Regions from separate parts of the Homo sapiens genome. Here region 2 is linked to region 1. A link means that fine-mapping ties the variant in region 1 to the expression of a gene that starts in the linked region. Tissue or cell type: tibial nerve. Region 1 holds a variant in brackets; the other region holds the start of a gene. All regions are shown on one strand. Distances are between the middles of the regions.

The links. PIP is the estimated chance that this variant, and not a neighbour inherited with it, causes the effect.
Region 2: it holds the start of TFAP2A, and the variant in region 1 is fine-mapped to the expression of TFAP2A in tibial nerve (GTEx, PIP above 0.99).

Annotation. Positions count from the first base shown.
Region 1 is chr6:10,267,539-10,275,642 of GRCh38, reverse strand. No RefSeq gene overlaps it. Among named protein-coding and RNA genes, the nearest start is that of TFAP2A-AS2, 130 kb to the left of the region's middle. The variant C/G (reference allele first, on the strand shown) is at 4,492.
Region 2 is chr6:10,410,164-10,418,267 of GRCh38, reverse strand. TFAP2A (transcription factor AP-2 alpha) reads left to right here and starts at 3,194. Exons shown (of 7, transcript NM_001372066.1): 1 at 3,194-3,327; 2 at 7,933-8,104. The coding sequence starts at 3,277. TFAP2A-AS1 (TFAP2A antisense RNA 1) reads right to left here and starts at 5,950. Exons shown (of 3, transcript NR_033910.1): 1 at 5,901-5,950; 2 at 3,217-3,587; 3 at 2,099-2,981. RefSeq lists enhancers at 679-1,336, 1,337-1,994, 2,653-3,312, 3,313-3,970 and a silencer at 5,351-5,710.

The DNA of each region.
Region 1 (8,104 bases):
TAATTGGTATATTTAGACTACTGAAATTTAATGTAATTATTGATATGTTAGGGCTTAAGTCTGCTGGGTTTTTTGTTTGTTTGTTTTTGGTTTGTTCTATTTTTTATTTTTCTGTTTCCTTTTCCCTGCCCTCCTCTGCATTACTTGAACATTTTTTAGAATTCCATTTGGATTTACCTATAATATTTTGAATGTATCTCTGTGTATATATTTTTAGTGGTTTCTCTCAGTATTGCATTCTATGTGTATAACTTATTGTAGCCTGCTGATGTTATCATTTTACTGGTTTGAGAAAAGTACAAGAAAGTTGCATCTCTTTATATTTCTTTAGCATTCCTCTTTACAATAGAATTGTCTTATATATTTCCTCTACAAACATTTAGTACCATATGAGACAGTGTTATAATTTTTGCCTCAACTGTCAGACATAATTCTGAAGATGCGAGGAAAGCGTATTGTATTTACTCATATTAATACTTACTGTGTTCTTTCTTCCTCACTGTTTGTTGGTTTCCTTTCTGCTTAGAGAACTTCCTCTAGCCATTCTGTTAGGGTAGATCTGCTGGTGAAAAATTATCTTAATTTTTCTTCATCTGTGAATTTCTTGATTTCCCTTTCATTTCTGAGGGACATTTTTGATAGTTATAGAACTCTGATAGACAATTCTTTTCTTTCAGCACTTGTAAAATGTCATGCCACTTTATTCTGGCCTCCATGATTTCTGATAAGAAATATGTTGTCTTTGAATTATTTATCCACCTATAAGTAAGGCACTCTTTCTCTCATGCTGCTTTCAATCATTTTTATTTGTTTTTAGTTTTCTGAAATTTGACTTCGATATGTCTTGGTGTCAATTTCTTTGGGTTTATCCTGTTTGAGAAAGTTGGGAAGTTTTCAGGCATTATTTCATTTTTAACTCTACCCTCTTTCTCCTTATTGTCTGAGACTCTCTTAACACAAAATGTTGTGAGAGTTAACATACATGTTAACTCTTGGTTATAGTCCCACAGATTTCTTAGTCTCTGTTCATTTCCTTTTTCCAGCCAATTTTTTGTTGTTGTTGTTGCTGTTCAGTTTGGGTAACTTCCATTGTTCTATTTCGGTTCTCCAATTCTTTTCTGTATCTCTCTCATTCTGTTATTGAGCCTATGCAATGAGTTTTCTACTTGGGTTATTGTGTTTTTCAGTTCTAAAACTTCCATTTGGGTTTCATTTATATTTTCTATTTGCTTGCTGAGTATTCGCTGAGTATTCTATTTCTTACTGAAATTTCCTACAACTTCATCTGTTCCAAGTGTGTTTATTATTGCTTATTAGAGCATTTTATGATGGCTGCTTTAAAATTGTCATCAGGTAATTCTAACACCTCCATCACCTTGATGTGATCTGTTGGTTGTCTTTTCTTCATTCAATTTGAGACCTTCCTATTTCTTGGTATGATGCATGATTTTCAGTTGAAACCTTGACATTTTTTGGTAGTATGTCATGAGACTCTGGATCTTATTTCAACATTCTGTTTTGAGTGGCTTCTTCTGACACTCTGTGACAATAGGTGTAGGGGTGACTCCTTCTGTCATATAGGGGAAGAAATCTAGAGGGTCCTTGTTAGTGCTGACTGAGACTGGGTGTTTCAGCTCCCCACTAGGCATCCACTGAGAGCTCTGTGGTGGGGAGCATAGCAGTGCCTTGTTACTGTCCCTGTGGCCTCCACTCACATTACGTCCTGATAGAGATGAATGTTCCAGCTCCCTATTTGGCCTTCTCTGAGGCCTACTATCCTTGTAGGTATGTTTGGGCACTTGTTACACCCTTGTGAGAGTGGAAGTCTAGGCTTTCCACCTGGCCTTTGCTGGTGTGGGTGTGGTAGGGCTTCAGGTGTTCTGTAGGGTTTCACTGGAGTAGAATGACTACCATCTGCAAGTTTTTCTGTCTTGTTAGGCTGTTCTTCCTTTCCTGGTTCTTGAGGTTTTTGTTTGTTTGTTTTTCCTGTGCTTGTTGGAATTTCTGGGTTGACTGCTTAGCTCCAAATCTACGATTTAGGAGGCAAAAATAAAACTTATGGAATTCAACACTATATTATTCCTTGTGTCCTTAGGTTTCCAGCTGGTCTGCTTTCTTCTTTTTATCTTTCAGAGCCTTCTTACATTTCTTTTATATGTAATGCCCAGGTTCTGTAGTTGTACTTAGCAAGAAGAATAGAAAAAATTATGTCTACTTCATTTACCTAGAAGTAGAAGTTGTAATTGGCTCCTCCTGTTTTAAGGAAAATGTCAAGTCCTTCAAAATTTTTCATTTTTCACTTCAGTATTTCTTTTCATTAAGTTTGTCTTCATTTTTTCTATTGCCTCAGCAGAAGAAATTCTACTTTAGTTCTCTGAAGTGATAGTCTTCCAGGCCATTACATTTCCTCTTGTTTGCTCTGAAAAACTTGCTCCTCCAATTATCTCTTCCTACTTGTGTCTTCAATCTTTTATTTTATTTTTATTTATTTGTTTTTAAACTTTCCCCCCCCCCATACTGCCTTGTCTAAGAATCTGCAATCTTATTTGATAAATACTCTCCTTCAGTTTGAGGGACACTTGTCTTAAAGAAACTGACCTTTGACCTGTTCTTTCCTAAGACAGTCTCCTATTTTTTTCCTTCTCCTAAAGGCCAGTGTTCTTGAAAGCATCATCTGTATTCTCTCTTCCACTGATTTATCATCCTCTCCACCCTTACTTCCTAGTAGTTGGTTTACTGACCTTACCAGTCTATGGAAATTGCATTTTAAAGGTCACCAATCATTTCCTGGTGATCAAATCCGATGGCTTTTTCTCAGTTCATATATACTTTCATTTCTCTGCAGCATTTGGCACCACAAGCTTTGGAAATTCTCCTCTTTGGATTTCATGGCTCTGAATCACTTTCTTCCCTCCCTGACTTCCTTTCTCCCTCCTACATTTAGCCAGTATTCAAGGTTCTATCTGCACTTTTCTTTTCTCTCTCATTCAATTTCATGGCTTCAACCACATGCTGATTCTGAAACTATACGCAGAGGATCCTAAAGTTTTGTTTTTACATTTAGTTTAGATGTCTTTCTTGGGCTTTAGTTTGACATTTCCAGGTGTTTTCATTTGTCACCAAATATCCAATCATTCTTTAAAAGTAGTACATCTAAAACCAAAACCTTCATCTCATCTCTGCAAAATGCTCTTGTTTTTGTGGTACCAATTTCTGTGAGTAGAATGTGTACCTCCCCGGCCACTAAGCATCGAAACCTTGGTGTGTTGCTTGGCATGGCCTGGCTCTAACTTGTCAGCTTCTGCTAGAAATTCACCAGTTTCTTGACTTTTACTCCTTGTAAAATTGGCTTTACCCAGCTCAGGTAACCTTTAACTTGTGCGTGGACTGTTCCAATAGCTCCCTAATTGGTCTCTCTGTTGTCAGTCTATTTCCAGTCTAATCAGTTTTACACTCCCCTTACTGGCTTCTCTTTCTGAACTTACTTTTCTTTGGCAGGCATTCAAGGCTTCTGTGATCTGCCATCACCTGCCTTTCCAGCATTGTTCCAACATTATTCCCACTGAGAGACACCATGTTTCTGCAAAACTGAAACACCTATTGTTTCTGTCATCCTAACTCTATCTTCTCACTCCAGCACTTAAAATGGAATTATGTCTCCATTCTCCTCTAGCACTTAATGTGTCTCTTTTTAAAATTATTACGATTATTTGCCCATTGAACTTCTGACCCAACTGTGTCTCTTTCTTATAGTACTCATCAATTTAGAAGTTGTATGAGATACATTTATATACTGACTTTACTCCTAGGCTGTCAGCTTGTGGAGGTGTTGATCATTGATTCATTCATTCATTTCACAGATTTCTAAGACATGCTAGGAAGAATAGGGATATGATAGTGAAAAAAAAGCTTCTCATAGCGCTTTCAGCCTTGGAGTCCTTATTTTTTTCATTGTTACTAGTTTGTTTTTACACTGTAAAAAGTGCCTAGTCCTGAATCAACGCCAGGCACACAGTAAGTACTCCTTATTAAATGAATGAATTAATTAGCAAGTATGTAAGATGATAATTACAAAAGTTTCACATGACTTGTTTTTAAATTATCTGGCATTTAAGCCTTTCTCATGAAAGAGAAAATAAACATCGAGCAACAGAGATATAATATTTATTAGAAATAAATGCAAATGCAGAAATATATCATCTGGGTCTTTGGATTAAGGCCACAATACAGCAGACATTTTTAACCAGTTTTACAAATGATAGCAATATTTAAAGAACATCGGTCTCAAGGACGGTTTTTGTAAGAATGAATAAAAACTGTGACTATGGGAACTGTCTGTTCCAAGTAGCTCTACACACTGAATTTGAGGCTTTTTAGCATAATAAGACATTTGTCCTCTTTGTATTTGAGACAGGGGTTTCATTTTACTTCCTACTGAGGTTTCCAGTGTGAATTTTTCATTGCAGCTTGCCCTGTTATAAAGTGTGTCTT[C/G]TATCTTACTGAGGTTTCCTTTCTCAGCTTTTTGGGATGGGCGTCTGAGCTTGAACAAAAGAATTGCTGGGAAAAGGAAACAGCAAACCAGGAAAGTGACTAGCTTCTGTGAATGCCTGCACTTTCTATAGACCGCAGACTGTTGGCACGTTAGCCAGTTCTTAGGGACTCTTGCTTTTCATTGCTCCTATCTTAGCAATGTCGTTACAAAGTTGACTGTAGAAATGTAAAGCTTAGCAGGGCGCGGTGGCTCACGCCTGTAATCCCAGCACTTTGGAAGGCCGAGGCAGGTGGACCACCTGAGGTCGGGAGTTCAAGATCAGTGTGATCAACATGGAGAAACCCCACCTCTACTAAAAATACAAAATTAGCCGGGCGTGGTGGTGCGTGCCTGTAATCCCAGCTACTTGGGAGGCTGAGGCAGGAGAATTGCTTGAACTTGGGAGGTGGAGGTTACGGTGAGCCAAGATTGCACCATTGCACTCCAGCCTGGGCAACAAGAGTAAAACTCCATCTCAAAAAAAAAAAACCAAAAAAAAAAAAAAAAAGAAAAGAAAAAAGAAATGTAAAGCATAGGTAATTGCTTTCTAGCCTTCAAACATCACACTCCAAATGTTTCCTCTGCTCCTTAAAACATATTCATTCCATGATCAATGGCCAATGAGAATAAAACAAATTCATCCTAAAGATTTTATTTGCTTTTCCCTCATATTGTTTCTTAAATTCTTAGATGTTTCATACTTAAAGAAAATTTCCTTATATAACTTTTTTCAAAGACATTCAGAGTTTTCGAGTTGCTAACTAGGTTTCATTCTCATAATGAGTCATTTCTAAAACTGTGCCAAGGACTTTGGGGCCTTAGATGAATTTCTAGTCAGTGGCATCTCAGACTGCATACTCTGACAGGCTTTCATCTGTCTGGGATAGAGACAAGAGATTGGCAAGTTAAAGATTAACTCTCCAGTAGGGGATTGAAGACTGCTTGCTCTATTTTCCCAACTGTTTTACCCACAAATCTCTATGTATTGAGATGAGCTCTAGGGTACCTATAAATCAGGTTAATAGGCAGTACATGCTGGAATAGGTACTTCTCGCTTAATACCAGGCAGCTCTGGTGCCACGTTCTATCTAGACCAGTTATTGGACTTGGGCTTGATATGAGATGGTACAGAAGGATCCTCCACCTTCCTTCCTTCCCTGACTTCCTTAGAGAACTGATGCTTACTGCAAAGACCCGGTGCAGCAAACCACTATGGCACGTGCTTACCTATGTAACAAACCTGCACGTTCTGCACATGTATCCTGGAACTTAAAGTAAAATTAAAACAGACAAACAAACAAACAAACAAACAAAAACTGATGCTTAGTCCTTAAAACTGGTCTTGGTGACATAGAAGACACCTAATTTTCTAAAGTGATAGAAAGAATACTTTTATTTATTTTTATTTATTTTTTGGCAGGAATACTTTTAGAGCATTTTTCCAGTAGTCATTTATCCTGTTATTGAGTATTTTTTTTTTTAATTTTGGCTTCGGATAAAGGACTGAGGAAGACAATTCTCTTTTTCTTTTGGTAGGAAGCACCATTTCGCATGCAAATTGTGTGGATATACATGACAAATTTGGTCCTAATACTAATTTATTTATATTTTAATGTTAGAAAAGGTGAAGGTGGTGCTAGTGAGAAGCTTTAGCTAACACACAAAATGGGGAAGTTAGTTAGTTTTACCACACAGCTGAACAACTTTCACACAAAACCAAAATGGCAGCTGGTTCTGAGGTTTCATGAACACATAAAAGCCCAAATGCCAGAAACCAAAAAATTCTCTTTAAGCAATTTTTTCCCTCTCTATAGGAACTGAGGCTGTCAGCAGCATAAACACTTGCAATCCTGCCCTTCCTAGGATGCATGTGCTATCGAAAAGGGAGGTGTTAATTGCTGTGCTAATTACAACATGATTGCTTTGCACTTGTTTTGCACTTGTAGGTGATTAAATTTTTAACGAAGCATATTACTTGGCACTGTTAGCACAGTTAACACATTTCTCTCTCTCTCTCTCTCTCTTTTTTATGCCTTGGGAGAAGTCCCGCACCGCAGACCCTTCTCTGGCTGTGATGTGCTGTTGTGTTTGGAACAAGCTTCTGTTTAGCCTGTCAGTTACAGGACTCCAGCTTCCTGCTTGGGAAAGAGCAGCAGCCTATTATAATCATCCCCAGCATGATGGCACTGGCCAGATGCGAGCGCAGAACCCACAAAGGTATTAGCTAAAAATTAGGCAGTGCTGCCAATGCCAGTTTCCAGCCTTCATTTAAAAACTACGACGACTCCAGCCAGTCAAGCGGCAGTGTCGAAGGGTTTAGCAGGAAGGTAGAGAGATGACAGCAAGTTCCATGTGATTTATTTCAGCTTTACAGCCTGCATTCCCAGCTGAACCGGAGCACGGGAAACTTGCATCTGTTACATGGGCAGCCTTGTATCTCTTGGTCCCCACTGTGCAGCAGGCTGCTGCTGTCCTCCGTGGAAGCCGGATTTTGTGTTTGTGCGCCTGTGCGTGCACACTTTCTCTCTCTCTTTTCCTCTTTCTTCCTAGGCCTCCTCATTCAGAAGTGTCTGGGAAGACAGGTTTGGTTGTAAGAGAAGAACTGGACATGTCTGAGGGGTTCACAACCTTGGGGTGCGCTGTCAGAGAAATGACAGGTAGCTAAATTCTCTTTAATGCTGCGTATCTGCAAACAAACCTATCTATAAAGCCCGAAAAGTCAAGCGTTCAACTTTTTATGACTTACCTCTCATGACTTGGCAAGTTTTGCAGCAAGGAGACTGGGATGATGGTTTTAGGAGAGCAGAGTGAACAAAGGAAAGAAACTGACCAGTTTGAATTTGAATGAGAAGCACCTGCTGTTGCCATGGGAGTTCTTGTGTGCCCATTGACCCCCACCAGTGGGCTGAGCAAGACAAAGGGGCAAAGCTGATTCTCAAGAGGAGCATAAATTCCTCAAAGGCTGAGTTAAGCTTTAGTTACTGAGCCTCAATGAATGCATCTCCAGAACATTTTATAAACTTTTTCAGCCCTCTTGAGGTTGCCTGAAAAAAAAAAAAGTTGCCTCTATACCACATAGCTTATACGTATCTGTCAGCTCAGCATGGTGAAGAAATGCACAAACCAAGTGGAAAAAGTTAGCTAAAAGGATCTACTGAGGCCAGGAGCAGTGGCTCACGCCTGTAATCCCAGCACTCTGGGAGGCTGAGGCAGGTGGATGACCTGAGGTCATTGAGACCAGCCTGGCCAACATGATGAAACCCCTTCTCTATTAAAAATACAAAAATTAGCTGGGCGTGATGGCACACATCTGTAATCCCAGCTACTTGGGAGGCTGAGGGAGGAGAATCGCTTGAACCCAGGAGGCGGAGGTTGCAGTGAGCTGAGATCGTGCCACTGCACTCCAGCCTGGGCGACAGAGTGAGACTCCATCTCAAAAAAAAGAAAAAAGGATCTACTGAACATATCCAGGACACTGTAGATTGTGACCTTACCAAGAATTCGAAATCAACTTCTGCACTGGTGCTCTCTTGACAACGGTATTATCTCTTATGATTTAAAAGTCCATTCCAT
Region 2 (8,104 bases), 140 kb before region 1:
AGAAAGGCCTTTTGCGTTCTGTACTTTTTTCCCTTGGATTTATTACTTTTATCAAGAGTGAGCTCTTTTATATTCTTCTCCCTAGTTAAGCCTCACTAAATGGTATTTCATCCGCAAGTTTAGACAAACCTCGTGGTTTAAGGATGCAAATCCCATACCAGAGACAAATCCCGGGAATCCACACCTTTCCCTTCCTGACCCTGTGGGCTAAAGGCCCTTCCTAACTCTCTTATTTGGAGGCTGAAGACTGGGGGAGTCCTTTCGGAGCAGTCTTTGGGTTTTCTCCTCAAATTCCAGTGAATTTCGCTGCAGAATTCCTAGGCCGTGAGAAGGTGCCTGTTGAGTAGGTTTGGCCTGGGACTGGGCCTTCTGTGGGTTCGACTAAGGTTTGAAAGCCGCGAGACTGCCGCAGGAGGAGGAAGGAGGGAGCCGCGGGCCTGGCTCTTGCGGGCTCACAGTTAGGCAAGTGGCTGGAGGCCTGGATCTCGGGTGGGGCGAGCGGATTTGGGGCCCGGAGGGGCCGAATCTGATGGGCTGGGCCTGTTGGGCTCCCGGCTCCCACTGGGCATTGACAATCGGAGAAAAGAGAGTCGTTCTGGCCCCTCACTGTCTCTTTCTCTTTGTGACTCTGTCTCTCACACAAATACTCCCTCTTCCCCGCGACGCCCTTTTTATGCCCCCCACGTCAGGCCTGGATCTCCGACCTCCAACCCCAGGCCTGGCGCTGCTGTCCCGGGGTTCTGGCCCCGCCGGAGCATTGACATGCAATGAAGCGACTTAGCGTGGTAATGACGCTGGCATAAATGCAGCTCGGCTGGCTCCAGAGGCGACCCTGGCGCTCGCCCGGGCCTTTCATCAGCGCCTACACCGGGGGCGGCAGTCCAGAGCCGGCAGGTCCCAATCTGCACCTCAATGGCGCCCTCGGCGGGAATACAACAACAGTTTAGCAGCCCCAGCGGGTGCGGAGCCGGAGATCTGTTGGGCGCGGGGCAGCGGGGAGGTGGAAACGGGGGTTGAAATGGGGTGGCAGAGGATGGAGGGCGGCCTTTCCAAGCCCGCAGAGGGCAAGAAAGCGAAACTTGGAGTTCCCTTAAGCACACCGCGGCGACGTCTACGGAGTGTAAAAACCCATGCTCTCAGGCCTAGGGTTTGGCCTGCTCAGGCTATGGCCGCTGCTGGGAGGGTGTCGGTGCTCCTGGCAGCCCAGATCCTGACTTCAAACCACTGCACTGGCGACAGGCTGGGACAGCCCTGCAGGGTCTAGCCCTGGAAAGTCGACCATTTTCTGGACGGAGGGCGGCGCCAAGCCTCCAGCCCGGTTCAGCCGAGGAATTGTGCTCAGTTCAGGTAGGGCAAGGGAGGCCCAGAGCATGGGGAGGGCTTCCTGGGTCTGTAAGGCCCCTTGCCAGCTCCGGCTTCTCCCTAGCTTTTTGGAGCCTTCTGCCTACTCTGCTAGGTTTGGGGAGTTTGCTGAGGTGTTTGGAGGGAGAATTCCCCTTCTGCAGCCTTGGGTGGAATGGGGAGTTCTCCCAGCTCCTGCCTTCCTTCCACCTGTGAGGGAATGCTCCAATCTGCCACAGTTCCCATCCCCTTTTAGGAACGCCCGGTGGAAATATGGGAGGCCTGGAGATTTTCGAGAAACAAGCCCAGATGAATCAAAGGTCCTTACTAGAGCAACTCTGAGGCGGGACCTAGTGTAGTTAAGGAGTTTGTACATATAGCAGAGAGAAAAGACAGAGGTAACTTTCTTTTGGAGGACAAACGAGGAAGCTCAGCCAGGAAAATTAATTACTCTGTATTTCCTAGTGTCACATTAGGTCCTTTTCTTTTTTTTTTTTCTTACTTAAAAAAAAATCCCAAAACCGAAAGGGATAAAAGCCCCAGAGGACCCAGCAGGCCCCGGTGAGGAGTCCAAAAGCCCGGACTGACCAGTCTGGACGAGTAGGTGGCTCCCAGGCCTCCAGGTTCCGCGGCAGCCGGGCTCTGCCTCGCGAGCACGCCCGCGTTAGTAGCATCACCAAATCATGAAGGAACTCTCCCTGCTTTAATTAAAAAGGGGAATCTTGGGAAAACTAGAGCAGATTAACACAGCTAAAAGTCGGTTCCCGGTGATTTATTTTGATGCACGCACGAGACGGTATCTAGACTTGCAGGCACACACACGTCTGTTTTTAGGCTCAACTTCAGAAGCGGGTGTGCAGTTCCATAGGAGTTCTGTATTCGTGTCCACGTTGCACCCAGGAAACCTTAGCCTGAACACCAATTTGAACTGTCAGTTGGCCCTAGCTTCACACAAACAGGAGAAAAATTGTTTAACCCCTGGAGCTGTCAAGTAACCTCTTCAGGGTACAACTTTTATTTTACACGCTGCAATTAAGGGATTGCAAACCCCAGCAGAGCCACCGGAGCCGCTTGGCAGAATCTCCAACCTGGGGGAAAGCTCAAAGCCAATAAAACTCCCAAGGCGCTGCGGCCCGAGGGGGTGGCTGCCTCGAGCGGAGGCGATCCCTTGTTGGGAAAAAATCCTGGAGTGACTTCGCCGGTCTTGGTTTGGTGGTTATGTTTAATTGCGAAAGGGATAATGATTTCTAATAAAATTGCACGGGGCCAAAAGGGCAGCTCGGATCGTGGTAGCAGGGTTAAGGGAGAAGTGCTAGAAGCTGGGCCCCAGGCGTGGCGCTTGGACCTTGAGCAGTGCCGGGCTTTGCAGAAGGCATCTCTGGAGAAAAGGAAGCGGAGAAAGAAAGGAAGGGGAATGTGGCGGAATTGGGGTAAGAGAGGGGGTGTTGGGGCAGGGCCTCGCGGCGGAGCTCGAGGAAGGTTTTATCAGTTCGCAGGCTGGAGTGCGCTCTAGAAGCAAGTTCGCGGCGTAGAGAGGCCTTTATACCTGTGTCGGAGCGGCCGGCGGCAGATTGTGGTACTGGCGAGCAATTGGACTATTGTTGATATGCTAATGAGGCGATTAGGCTGTTGGTAAAGAGCTGGAAAAGGGAAAAGTTTCTACCATTAGAGGGAGATCTCCGAGCGCACACGGGAGCTCTTTCCCTTCTCTCCTCCTCCTCGCCCTTCTCCTCGCCCTCCTCCTCCTCCTCGCCCTCCTCTTCCTCCTCCTCCTCCTTGCCCTCCTCCTCTCCCTCCTCCTTCTCCTCCTCCACCTCCTCTCCCTCCTCCTCCTCCTCCTGCGCTCACCGCCGGCAGCCAGCACTTTGCGCTCACCCAGAGAGTAGCTCCACTTGGGTGCGAGACCGAGAGGGGCATATCCGTTCACGCCGATCCATGAAAATGCTTTGGAAATTGACGGATAATATCAAGTACGAGGACTGCGAGGTAAGCGCGACGCCGGCTCGATCATCCGTGCGGTCACAGGCTCCGAGCTTGACCCTCCCTCTCCTCCTCCTCTCCTTGCAACCAGCTGCGAAACGCGGGTGGGACAAACTTTCCCCAGCGCAGCGCCCGTCCCTCGGATTCGCCCGAAGAACGCGGGGGAGAAGCTGCAGAGAGAGGACGTGGATGCTCCCTTCTTTGGTTTCCCTACTTTGAAGCTCGTGTCCCACTTTACTCCCCTTTCTGACCAATTTTGGCTGTGCCTAAGAATGGGGGAAAAGAAGAACATGGGCTTTTGAAGCAATTGCTGGCAACTGGGCACTTGCCTGTGCACTCCTCGTGTTATCTTCATCGAGATTGAGGGCCCAAGTCACCAGGAACAGAAAGGAAAGAGAAAACTCTTTTCTCTCTTGAACTTCCTCTCCGATCTTTAATATTCCTTCTTCTTTCTATTCATTCATTCATTCATTCATTCATTCTTTCTTCCCCCCACCCCCACTTCTAAAGCGGTTCCCTTCTCGGCTTTAGAGACGGCCCCCCCACACTTCGCTGTGAGCTGGGCTGCATCTTCCTGTAAGCGGGTTCAACTTAAGACCACTGATCCCAGCTGCGGGGCTCGCTCCAGATCCTCTGTGCTTCACGAAGTTCTAAGTAGCTTCTCCCTCTGAGCTACAGGATCGACGCACCCCACGGGGGTGTGTGGGGGTGGGGTGGGGAGATGTGCTGCGCCGAGCCTGCTGGCCGCTGGGTGCGGGAGCACCAGCTTCTGCACCAGCCCAGAACGACCGTGGGAATCCTTGCGCGGCTGCAGACCACCTCTGGTGCCGCAAGCCCGCTGGGCCGACAGAGCGCGCCGCTTTGGAACCCATTTTAAAACGCAGAGTCCCCTGAGCTCGCCTTCTTGAGGCAGCAAGGGAGACCCTAGCGCGACCTGTCCACCCGCAGGAGGCGCTGGGAACGGTTACAACCAACACTGTAATGAGCAATGAGTCCGAGAGAGGGGTTGGGGTGTGTAGGGCTGGAGATTACCTAAATAAATAGGTGGCAGTCCCAACTTTTGCTGTTTTTTTTTTTTTTCTTTTTTGGCATTTGCAGCTGAGAATGTTAGGCAGGAGGTGTGTGTGCAGGCGCAGGGGCGGAGATCTTGACTTCACTCGAAACCAGAAATTGGGTTTATGTGAACGATGTGTCACCCGCTCCCTCCTCCCTTTTCTTTCTGAAGATTATTTTAAATCGTTCTCCTTTCAGGCCCCCCACCCCGGTAGATGGGGACGGGGTGACATCCCACGGGTACTGGCTCTTCCCTGGGGGGGTCCTGTCGCGCTAGAGGAGGGGCGCAGGGACCCCACGTCAGACCAGTCGCTTTGTTTTCGAGGCTGGGGGCGAGCTTTGCGGGCAGGTAGGAATGAAGCCGAACCCCTCAGTCTCATAGGACAATTCATACTGTACTGGTCTGGGCTTTGGCCGGAGGCTTGGGCATTTCACTTTCGCAGAGGCCGAAACCCAGCTCCAGGTGTGGGCGCCCTCGGCGGGCGGGGTCCGAACCTCCGTGCGGCTCTAGGTGCCGACTGGATGGGGTGGGTGGCTAGGTGGGGGATGAACTTGCACCCCTAGAGGGATCCTGTGGGGGCAAGTGTGAATGCGTGTGTAAGCGAGGCAAAAAAAGATGAGAGAGAGAGGAGAATAAAGTCAAAGCTGTTTCCACAACTTTGGCCGTGGTGGGCAAGCGCCGGAGCGGGGATTTCGGGTTTCGGAGCTGGCTTGGGGCAGTCTGATTGTGCCGGGGCTCTGTAGGGACACGCAGGAGGCGAGGTGCCGCTTGTTCTGACAACCTGGCGGGTAGACTGGCAAAGGCAGCACGCCGGGAGAGCTAGTCGTGTCATCTGGGGGGGCGTCAGGCGGGAGTGGCCCAGCCAGTCGGACGGGTTTTTGCCGGGAGCCGCGAGCCGGTGCCAGCGGCGCCCGGGCTGGGCCGCCTAGCGTCTGTGCGCGCCCCGGCCCGCATCCCGGCTCCCGATCCGGAATCCCCGGCCCCAGAGAGCCGAGGGCAGAGCGACGGTGGCCGGGGAGCGCACGGTGCCCCTGTCCGAGGAAAGCTCAAGAGGAGGCCGAGGAGAGGACCAGTGCAGCGAGCGGGCCGGTCCCGGGCAGGGCGCCGGGTCATGGAGGAGCCGCGCAGCAGCGGGCAGCCGAGTCCCGAGTCCCAGACTCGGCTGCGAAGCGGCGGAGCCCGCGGCCAGACAGGGCCGGGAAGCGCCTGCCGCGCCGAGAGCCCCACGAGCGCCCGGACGCGGTCCCAAGCAGCTCCTACCCGCTACGCACGACCCCCGCTGCATCCCGAGGTCTGCCCCAGCCTTTTAGGTCTGATTGTCCTCGCTCGCTTCCTCTCCCCTTCCCCCTCCCCCGCGGCCTCCCCCTCCGTGCGCTCCGGCTGGGCCCCCTCCCCCTCCCTCCCTCCCTTCCTCCCTCCCTCTTTCCCTCCCTTCCTCCTCTCGGGCTCTCCCTCCTTCCCTCCCTCCCCTCTCCCCACCCGGGGCTCCTCTCCCTCGCCCACACTTTCTTTCTCACACACGCACGCAGACACATTCTCCCTCTCTGCGCTCTCTCCTTCGGTCTCCCTCTCTGCCTCTTTCTCTTTCACTTTTGCATGCCCTGCAACCTTTTAAAATGTTGCCCCTTCCCTGTGATTCGCCAGACGCCGCGCCGCGGCCCCCCGCGCGCTCGCCCGCTCCCTCTCTCGCTCGCTTTTTGTCTCTCGCGCTCCCTCTCCCCACTCCGATTTGCTACACTGAGACTCCCGTCAATGGACTGCATTGAGAGCCGGCTCCGGCGCGAGTTGCCTCTCCGCTTCACGCTCGATTTCCAGGCATTCTTCCCTTATTAAGTATTCGTGTAATATTAATAGTCATGAATATCTGCTATTAGGAGGCTCCAGGAACGCTGCCCAGCGCGGTTATTAGAAGCTCAAGCGAAGCCGCCGCTAAGAAAAGAGGGGGAGACACGGATTAAGGAACACGCACGCACCCACACACTCACACATACTTTTTCCTTTTTCCTTTTTTGGGGTTTTTCATTTTTAAAGAACTTTGAATCATAACCAGTCGCGGCAGGATAGAGACCGTGGGTTCGACCAGCTGAAGGCGCCGCGCGAATCGGTGGTTCAAGTTCGGATGGATCCGAGCCGGGCTCCCGCGCTCCGGGGAGCGTCGGCGCCGTGACTGGAGTCCTGGGTGGCGCGGGGCTCTCGGCGCCTTTTGTGTGGGGCGCGCTCGGGCGGCGGGGCAGCCGGGCGCTCCAGGCTTGCTTGTTTTTTTCCACCCTGACTCGTTACCCCAGACTCTTCGCAGATGTTAGTTCACAGTTTTTCAGCCATGGTGAGTCCCATCCCCACCCCCGTTGCTGTTTCTTTAGGAATTGGATTCTGGAAACCTGGTGCCGTGGAGCTGCCCGAAACCTCGGGTTTCACGCCCAGCTTTCCTTCAGGACACCCTCTCCATTTGCATCCCCCACCCCACCTTCCGCCTTTCTCTCGCTCTTTTCCATCCCTAAATCGAGTGCATTACCCCCTACCCCAGCCCCCGCTCGACCTCTCCGAGCACGCAGACCTACCTCGCCGCGGCTTCCCAAGGCGTGTTTCTCCCCACGTTCATCTTGATTTCCTTGAGTCTTCACTTGTCCCCGAGATGTTCTCAACATTTGATGCTTAAACTGTCTGCAGGAAAAGTGCAGCGCGGTGTGCCCCCTACCCTCGGGACCTGCGGCCGAACCGCCGAGGGTTCGCGGTCTCTGGAATCAACTCTCTTCGCTTGTTTTGCAAGGGAATTGCAATAGAGAAACCTAAAGTCAGGCGTTTCTTCTGCCCTTTGGGGCTGGGGTGGAAGGGGCGGGGGGGGGGGGCCACAGCCCCGGGGTGCACCTCTCTCTTTTAAACCCAATAAGGCTGAATCTTTCTATTTTAAACCTTGACTTGACGTCCCCCTTTCCCTATCCAAACCATAAATCGACTCTGTCGAGAAAAAGGCTCCTAACAGAGGAAGCGAAAAAGACAGACCCCGATCCTGCAGTTAAAACCTTCTTTAAGCTGGTAATTTAAACGTGTGTTTTTGTTACAGCCCCTCTGCGAAATATGTTTCTATTTAAGTAGTCATGAAACGGTAACAGTCTTTGAACGTTTATGATTTTTTTCTCTCCAAATAAATGGAAGAGAATAAACAATAACGCAGTGGCAGACAGGTTCAAATCGGGGGAAAAGAAAAGGCCGCTTCTGCTGTTTAGTATTTAGGAGGAATTTTAATTTTGCTTAAGAGAGATTTCACGCTGCAGTTTAATGGGCTGTGTTCCAGGAGACCCTTTTCTATCTTTTCCTCTCTTTGAAAGAAACCCCTAAATAGTCTCTTGTGCCCCCTCCATATACAGTTTCTCTGCGTTGTTCGGTCTGTTTCACTTGAGGGTATTTCCTGAAAAGAACTTAGAGCTGATTTTTTCCCGGCGGCCAGCCAACGGGAACGGGCGATTTCCCACGCAGACTTGTCAAGTGGATTTTGTGTGGATAGTTGTAGCTCGACGCCTGATTCCTTGTTCTTTACCTTTCCTCTCGCTCTCTTCTAGGACCGTCACGACGGCACCAGCAACGGGACGGCACGGTTGCCCCAGCTGGGCACTGTAGGTCAATCTCCCTACACGAGCGCCCCGCCGCTGTCCCACACCCCCAATGCCGACTTCCAGCCCCCATACTTCCCCCCACCCTACCAGCCTATCTACCCCCAGTCGCAAGATCCTT